Linked DNA regions of Homo sapiens. The protein of the gene in region 1 purifies or fractionates together with the protein of each later gene. This does not show direct contact. Each region holds a gene or a part of one and is shown on either strand. Other genes may lie near its edges.

Region 1 (3,826 bases):
CTACAGCAGAGGAAAAAACCATTTTAGAAAGGAAAAGAGGAGGAAAGAAAGGGAGGAAGGGAAGAACAAAGGAAGAAAAGGAAGGAAAAGGAGAAAAGGAAAAGACAAGACAAGAAAAGGAAGGAAGGAAGAAAAGTAAAAGAAAGAAGAAAGAAAGAAGGAAAAGGAAAAAGGAGCAATTTATGAGCAAACTAGAAATTGGGTGGCAAATAAAAATGAGAGCATCTTATAAGTGAACCAGCAATAAGAGGTCCTTTACACATCACAAGTAAGGAGTGAGCCAGAGAACCAGTGGGGTCATGAAATAAAAAGGATGAAAAGGGGCTAGGCGTGGTGGCTCATGCCTGTAATCCCAGCACTTTGGGAGGCCGAGGTGGGTGGATCACGAGGTCAGGAGATCGAGACCATAGTGGCTAACACGGTGAAACCCCGTCTCTACTAAAAATACAAAAAAATTAGTCGGGTGTGGTGGCAGGCGCCTGTAGTCCCAGCTACTGGGGAGGCTGAGGCAGGAGAATGGCGTGAACCCGGAAGGCAGAGCTTGCAGTGAGCCTAGATCGCCGACAGAGTGAGACACCATCTCCAAAAAAATAAAAATAAATAAATAAAATAAAATAAAAGGATGAAAAGAAGATAGTAGATAAACTAAATGACTTTTTACAAAAAGATTAAGCCATTCCTCTGTGTAATATATCTTTTGAGGTAGGCAGAAGGGTCAGAGGTAACAATGGCAAATGTGTAAGAGACTGTTTCCAAGCCACATACCAGAAGTATTCAAAGGCATAATGCCTGGGACTGAGTGATCTAGTTACCAGGGCTGGCCCTCTGCAAAACTCTTGGCAAAGATCGCTGTGGTTTTTGGTACCCCTTTCCCTCTACTGCTCCACTAGGCAATTCCTGCTCCTCAGAATACTCAAGGAGCTCATGCTCTGACCCTTTCACAATTCATTCTCAAGAATGGCACTGTGAAGCTACACCTCATCTCTACTAAAAGTTTCTTTTTTTTAAATTAGCCAGATGTGGTATCGTGTGCCTGTTTGCCCCAGCTACTTGGGAAGCTGAAGCAAGGGGATCACTTGGATCCAGGAGGTCAAGGCTGCAGTGAGCTGTGATCATGCCATTGCACTCCAGCCTGGGCAACAGGGGAAGACCCTGTCCACAACCCCAAAAAAGAAAGGTTCTGTGAAACTATACTTCTATAGTACAGCAGGGGTGAGGATGAGAGGTTGTGCCAAAATTTCGTTTTAAGGACTATTTCTAATTGTAGAATAAAAGTATGTTTCCTGTTAAAGGAATTTCAGGTATTAATCCAACAGATAGGAGAGATGTTTGGGCCAGGAAGCCTCCTTGGTACCCTTGGAATCAGAGGTGCCTTCACATAATGCCCTGACCAGACTTGACTTCTGAAGGAAAGCAAAGAAAAAAAATTATTATACCTCTAATGAAAACCTGGAACCTGTTATTCTGGATGATCACTGTGTGGCTTGCATTGCCAATGTGGGTCCACAGGCAAAGGGGCCCTGGGAACTATAAACTGATGAGTGTCTGGTTCTTCAGTAGGCAAGCTGGAAGAATTTTTAATAAATGCTAGCCTCCTGTACACAAAAGCCATCAATCTATTGGGATGTGGGTGGCATCATGCTTTTTGTAAAGCGAAATCATGTGTAATCTTCTACAGATCTTTTCCTTGGGGCTAAACTTACTTTAAAAATGCTTCTGATTAGGTTTGATACCAAGGCTATTTTTAAACATGAATTACCATGGGATTTAAAATATTTTTTATCATGTAGTAGGAACTGGTCTACAGAAAAAAAAGAGAAAATATAGGGTAGAAACAGATATTTTTTCTGACTGAAGAAGGATAAATAGACTTCCTTGGGGGTGGGCACTGGAAAATCCTCAAGTCTACAGATAATACTCAGCTTTCCCAGGCAGTGAAATGCCAAGTTGATGGGAGATAAAGAAGATCTCAGGAGGTTTTATGATTGGCAGATAACCTTCAATAGGGGCACATGTAAAGTGATCCATTTAGGGCTTTGTAAGGGGTACATGTAAGGTGATCCATTTAGGGTGATCCATCTAGGGAGCACTAGATATTACAAACTATACTTGCTGGATGATGAGTGCTGACCTTTCAATTAAGACCCAGGAAAGGGCTCGAGGAGACACTGTGGACAGTGCACTGAAGAGAACAACCTAGTTTTCTGTTATGGTAAAAAAAAAAAAAAAAGGGTAACAAAATCAGGCACTGTTAAGAAAGGGATTAAAAGAAAAACAAAATAATTCTCCTTTTACATAGAACTGCAGGATATCTTTATTGGTAAAGTTACATAAGCAGCTCTGATCTGCACATCTCAAGGACAGAAGAGAGCTTAAGGGGAACAAAGAAGGGCAATTAAACCATTGATGGCAGGCTCCAAAAAAAAAAAAAAAAAGTTTTTTCAGCATGATAATACAGAGGTAGCCAGGAGACATGATCAAAATTATGAAGAGGCTTATGCTGCTGAATAACTGAATGATGACTTGGCTCACCAAATCTCTTGAGCTAAGAAGCACTTTTGAAGCATAAAGTTTTTATTTTTTAATAGTTCTGCTTTGTTTATACAACTGCCAGTGATGATGGCCAGTGCAGGCAGGCTTCTTTGGGAAGAACCTCCACCAGAGGTTGGGAGAAATACGAGCTAAGTTGGGGAGGGATCAAGAGTACCTCAATCCCCGTTACTTACCTTCAGTAATGTTGACTGGCTGACTTCTATTCGGATTTGCTTTCTCTGCCACCACTTGTGCCTGACCAATCTCAATTTTTATGAATATGAGTTTAACACAACCCCCCACCCCCATTCCATAAGGCTTTTCAACTCTAGTGGTCCACACATTGGCACCAATCTGTCTGTCTACGATTGTCTGTAACTTAATCCTTAGCCATGGTGTAGAAAGAACAGGTATCTGACTCCAATTTTAACACAGTGGATAGAAGGTAAGAATGCATGATGAATAATAATAGTCAATTCTCTAATATTTACACCAGTAGAAGAAAGCACAGGTCTCCATAATGAACCCTGACAACTGAAATGAACCCTGCCAGGTTAATGAAATAAGACACATGTAGGTTTATTTAGCTAAGAAAGTAGCAAATAAGGGATTCTTCAGGATAGCAAAAAAAGCTCTGCTCTTGGGATGGGCTTAATCATATTGAGTAAGATCCAACCTGGAGCATGGCTCTGGTCCAACTGCTTGGCTCTGCCATACAGCGGATAGCTACTGATCAAATAAGCATAATGACCAGTATACAAAAGCTTTATAGGTATATAGATGTTTTCTTTTTTACATTGTTCTTGTTTACATTGTGAGATGGGGGCCATTTCATCCTACAGAACTGCAATCCACTTATTACTGGCTAGTGTTACTGCCATACCTTTCACAGATCTGGTAATATTTTTCATCTTGTATGCCATCCTGAATGGGCACATTTACACTGTAGTACCGTCCCTTCCCTAGGCCAACATCAGACACGTCACCTGTTCCTATAAAAGAGAAGAGCACTATGATCAGTTATTAGGAACATGAGAACCCAGAAAACTTAAAGGATTTCCTGATAGGGAAATTTCTAGGGAAAGAAATTAAGAAAAATTATATAAAGAAGTAAGTATTGTAAACAATCTTGGAGAAGCAGGCAAATCATAAGGAAACTGAAAAACCTCAGTTTTCACCTTACTGGATCAAATGAAAAAATAAGAGATTAACTCCTTTGCTTGGCTTCATGCTTTTTAGGTTGACATAACATCAATTTATCACTGCAATTATTCAGGATGTTAGGAGTTGCATG
Region 2 (3,826 bases), on another chromosome or scaffold:
GCTCACTTGCAGTCTCAACCTGCTGGGCTCAAACCATTCTTCCACCTCAGCCTCCTGTGTATCTGGGACATAACGTGTGTGCCACCGTGCCTGGCTAATTTATTTTTTTTTTTTTACTTTTTGTAGAGATAGGGTTTCTCCATGTTGCCCAGGCTGGTCTTGAATTCCTGGGCTCAAGCAGTCCTCCCACCTCAGCCTCCCAAAGTGCTGGGATTACTGGCGTGAGCTGCCATGCCCAACAAGTTCAACTTTTTAAGACTCTGTATATAAGTGAGATCATGGGGTATTTGTCTTTCTGTGCCTGGTTTATTTTATTTAATACAATGTCCTCTAGGTTCATCCATGTTGTCACATTTGACAGAATTTCTTTTTTAAAGCTGAATAGTATTCCATTATGTTGTATATACCACATTTATATCCCATCCATCAATGGACACTTAGGATGATTCCATATCTTGGCTATTGTGAATAATGGTGTACCTAACATGAGAGTACAGATACCTCTTTGACATACTGAGTACATTCCCTTTGGATATATATCTGGTAGTGAGACTGTTGGGTGATATGGTAGTTTTATTTTTAATTGTATGAGGAACCTCCATACTGTTTTCCACAATGGCTATACTAATTTACATTGCTACCAACAGTGTGCAAAGGGTCCCTTTCTCCCTACATTCTAACACTTGTTGTCTTTCATCTTTTTTATAATAGCGATTCTAACAGGACATGCCATCTCGTGCTTTAATTTGCATTTTCTTGATTAGTGATGTTTTAATACACTTGTTGACCATTTGTATGTCTTCTTTTGAGAAATGTTTATTCAGATCCTTTGCCTATTTTTTAATTGGGTTCTTCTCTTGTTATTTTTTGAGTCCCCTATATATTTTGGATAGTAACCCCTTAAAAGATGTATGGTTTGGCAAATGTTATTTTAGATTTTACCCTCTTCTGTGAAGGCTCAGAAGGCTGACTGCCTTCAGACCCAGGAACAGAGACTTAAATGAGCACTGAGATTTGCTTCCCCAGAACAGTTTTATAGATAGAAAAGCACTTCTGGTCAGCAACTTAGAACTGTTCGTTTGTCGGGAACAGTTGTGTGAGTGGAAATTGCAATATCAGCTGTTATCAGCTCTAACTAGGTCTTGAAATTTGCATAATTTCAGCTCCAGTGTTACATGAAAGTTATGTGGTGTTTGGAAGGATGCCTTTTTCTTTGTTTTTTAGCAAAGGAGTCTTTTAAATCATTTGTATACAAAAGGAATTAGGATCCAAATGCTGTTATTGATACAGGTTTGATGCTTCAAATGTGGCTTTTCCCTCCCTTAGGGGTATAGAACAGGCTATGCTTACAGGCATCCTCTCATTCGAGAGAAGCCTAGGCACAAGAGTGATGTGGAAATCCCAGCAACTGTGACTGCTTTTTCCTTTGAAGACGATACAGTGCCACTCTCTCCTCTCAAATACATGGCACAGAGGCAACAGCGTGAAAAAACAAGATGGCTGAACTCACCAAATACTTACATGAAAGTGAATGTGCCTGAGGAGTCTCGGAACGGAGAAACCAGTCCCCGAACCAAAATCACGGTATGCCAGTATTTTATGTAGTTTGCCTTTACTAAATATTTTGCCTAGTTACTCAAGAATTGAATGTTCTATATTGAAAATATTTGGAAAGTAAAATAATATTAAAAATATTACTGTCACTTATCTGGCTTTAACTTTGTGCAAGACACTCTTCTAAGTGCCATACACGAATTTTCTCATTTAACTCTCCTAATATGAATGATGCTGTTTTTCTATTTTATAGATGAGAAAACCAAGGCAAGAAGGGTTAATTAATCATGTTTTAATGGTAAACTCGGGATTTGCATGAAGACAGTCTGACTCTTGAGCCCAGTTCTTGTCCACTACATGATACTGCTTTGTAGTTTCTATTAAACTACACCAGTAGTTTAATTCACCAGTGAATTAAAACTGTAAAAGTTATCAACTCCTAATTGTACCAAAGCTGCATGAATCACTGCACATAGCTACCCTTAGGCAAGATCTTGTAGGTAGAGAAATGGGTTATTTTATCTTTTTCAGAATTTTGCATTAGATTTGGTTTGGTTTGGTTTTGGAGTGCATACCACCAAACATTCTCTAGGTCAGTCTTGTCCAGTCCATGGCCCAGGATGGCTTTGGATGCAGCTCAACACAAATTTGTAAACTTTATTAAAACATTATGAGAATTTTTTGTGATTTTGTTAAACTAATCAGCTATCGTTAGTGTTGGTGTATTTTATATGTGGCCCAAGACAGTTCTTCCAATGTGGCCCAGGGAAGTCAAAAGATTGGACACCACAGTTCTAGATATTCAGAATTAGTTCATCTTATATAAACTAATGGCATTCAATATGAAAATACCTAGGCATCAAAATGTCTTTTCTGTAGTCTATAAGATTTCTTGCCTCCCAGTAAAAGAACATAATTAAACTCATTGGTTTCTCAGAATTCATTTTGTTTACAGAGATTGATGGTCAGCCATCATTAATCTTGATCGAGATTCGCTTTCTTTAAGGATTATAATATGGGGTAAATGAGAAGAATTATGTAAGCTCCTTCCAACCCCGTGGTTCTATTTTGCTATTATATACCAGATTATCCCCATTATAAAATGCCGATTAGGGCTTGGCCTTTTCTGTCAGCCAAAAATAAAAAGTGAAGTCTGATAAACTAAAATCTTAAGATATTTCTTAAGTTTTTTTTTTTTTTGATTACTCCTTTGCCATCTTCATCTGACTGCTGTCTTCAGTGCAGAAGACAAAACACTGAATGTGAGTGAATGTGAGATCATGCTCTCTGTGCTTGAAGTAGTTTCAGCATCATATTTTCACTTGACACAAGGAGAAAGTTTAATTAGCAGTATAATTGAATATTTATGTGAATCGTAATGGCATTTATTTTTTAAGTAAATGTTGATTTTGAGCCTTTTCTAACTAGTATGAGATGAAACTAATTCACCACTAAGATACTGCTTAGTGAAATTATTTAAACATTGGCAATGCCCCTCTTGAGACTATAAGCAGTTATCTAACAATCTACTAATATTTTCTTAACACAAAGCTTCATTTTAGAAAATTTTTGATTCTTTAGTGGATGAAAGCAGAAGACTCATCTAAAGTTAGTGGTGGAACACCTATCAAAATTGAAGATCCAAATCAGTTTGTTCCTTTAAACACAAACCCGAATGAGGTACTAGAAAAGAGAAATAAGGTAAGACATGGTCTTCTATAGCCAGGGGAGACATTTTAATTGCTTTATGTTTAAATCACCAGTGGTTGAATCTGGTTAATGCCAAACTTAGAAGTTTGAATACAGAAGAATTTGGAATTTAATTCAGTATAATTTTAGCTTATATTGAATGCCTCCAGCTCTGTGCTAGTAATTGGTGAACAGGCTACATGGGGAAGATGTATTGAACATTTTTCTGCGTTAGAGAACCCTGCTATTAGGGGGAAAATGCAGTTCTCTAACAACCTAAGACGAAAGGAAATAACTTGCCATAAAGAGCAGAGGAGACTAATATGAGTTGTTAGGATGGTAAAAGAGGTCTTTATGGAGGTGGGAATTGAAGAGACTCTCACTCTGGAAATGTCAAGTAGTAAGCTTTTATGAAAAGATAAAGCAAAGGTCATCTGCATAGTTGCCCTCAAGAACTTTATATTGAATTGTTTTTCAATTCAGATTCGGGAACAAAATCGATATGACTTGAAAACAGCAGGACCACAATCTCAGTTGCTTGCTGGAATTGTTGTGGATAAGCCACCTTCTGTAAGTTTATGAA

The links.
Region 2: the proteins of HDAC8 (region 1) and ADD3 purify together in Homo sapiens (affinity purification with mass spectrometry; one large-scale study listed by BioGRID and IntAct). This does not show direct contact.

The regions. Positions count from the first base shown.
Region 1 is NC_000023.11:72,485,518-72,489,343, forward strand, and holds part of HDAC8 (histone deacetylase 8), read right to left. Parts: intron 3,525-3,826; coding exon 3,416-3,524; intron 1-3,415. UniProt on the Homo sapiens protein: Histone deacetylase that catalyzes the deacetylation of lysine residues on the N-terminal part of the core histones (H2A, H2B, H3 and H4).
Region 2 is NC_000010.11:110,122,691-110,126,516, forward strand, and holds part of ADD3 (gamma-adducin), read left to right. Parts: intron 1-1,326; coding exon 1,327-1,584; intron 1,585-3,135; coding exon 3,136-3,255; intron 3,256-3,726; coding exon 3,727-3,813; intron 3,814-3,826. UniProt on the Homo sapiens protein: Membrane-cytoskeleton-associated protein that promotes the assembly of the spectrin-actin network. Plays a role in actin filament capping. Binds to calmodulin.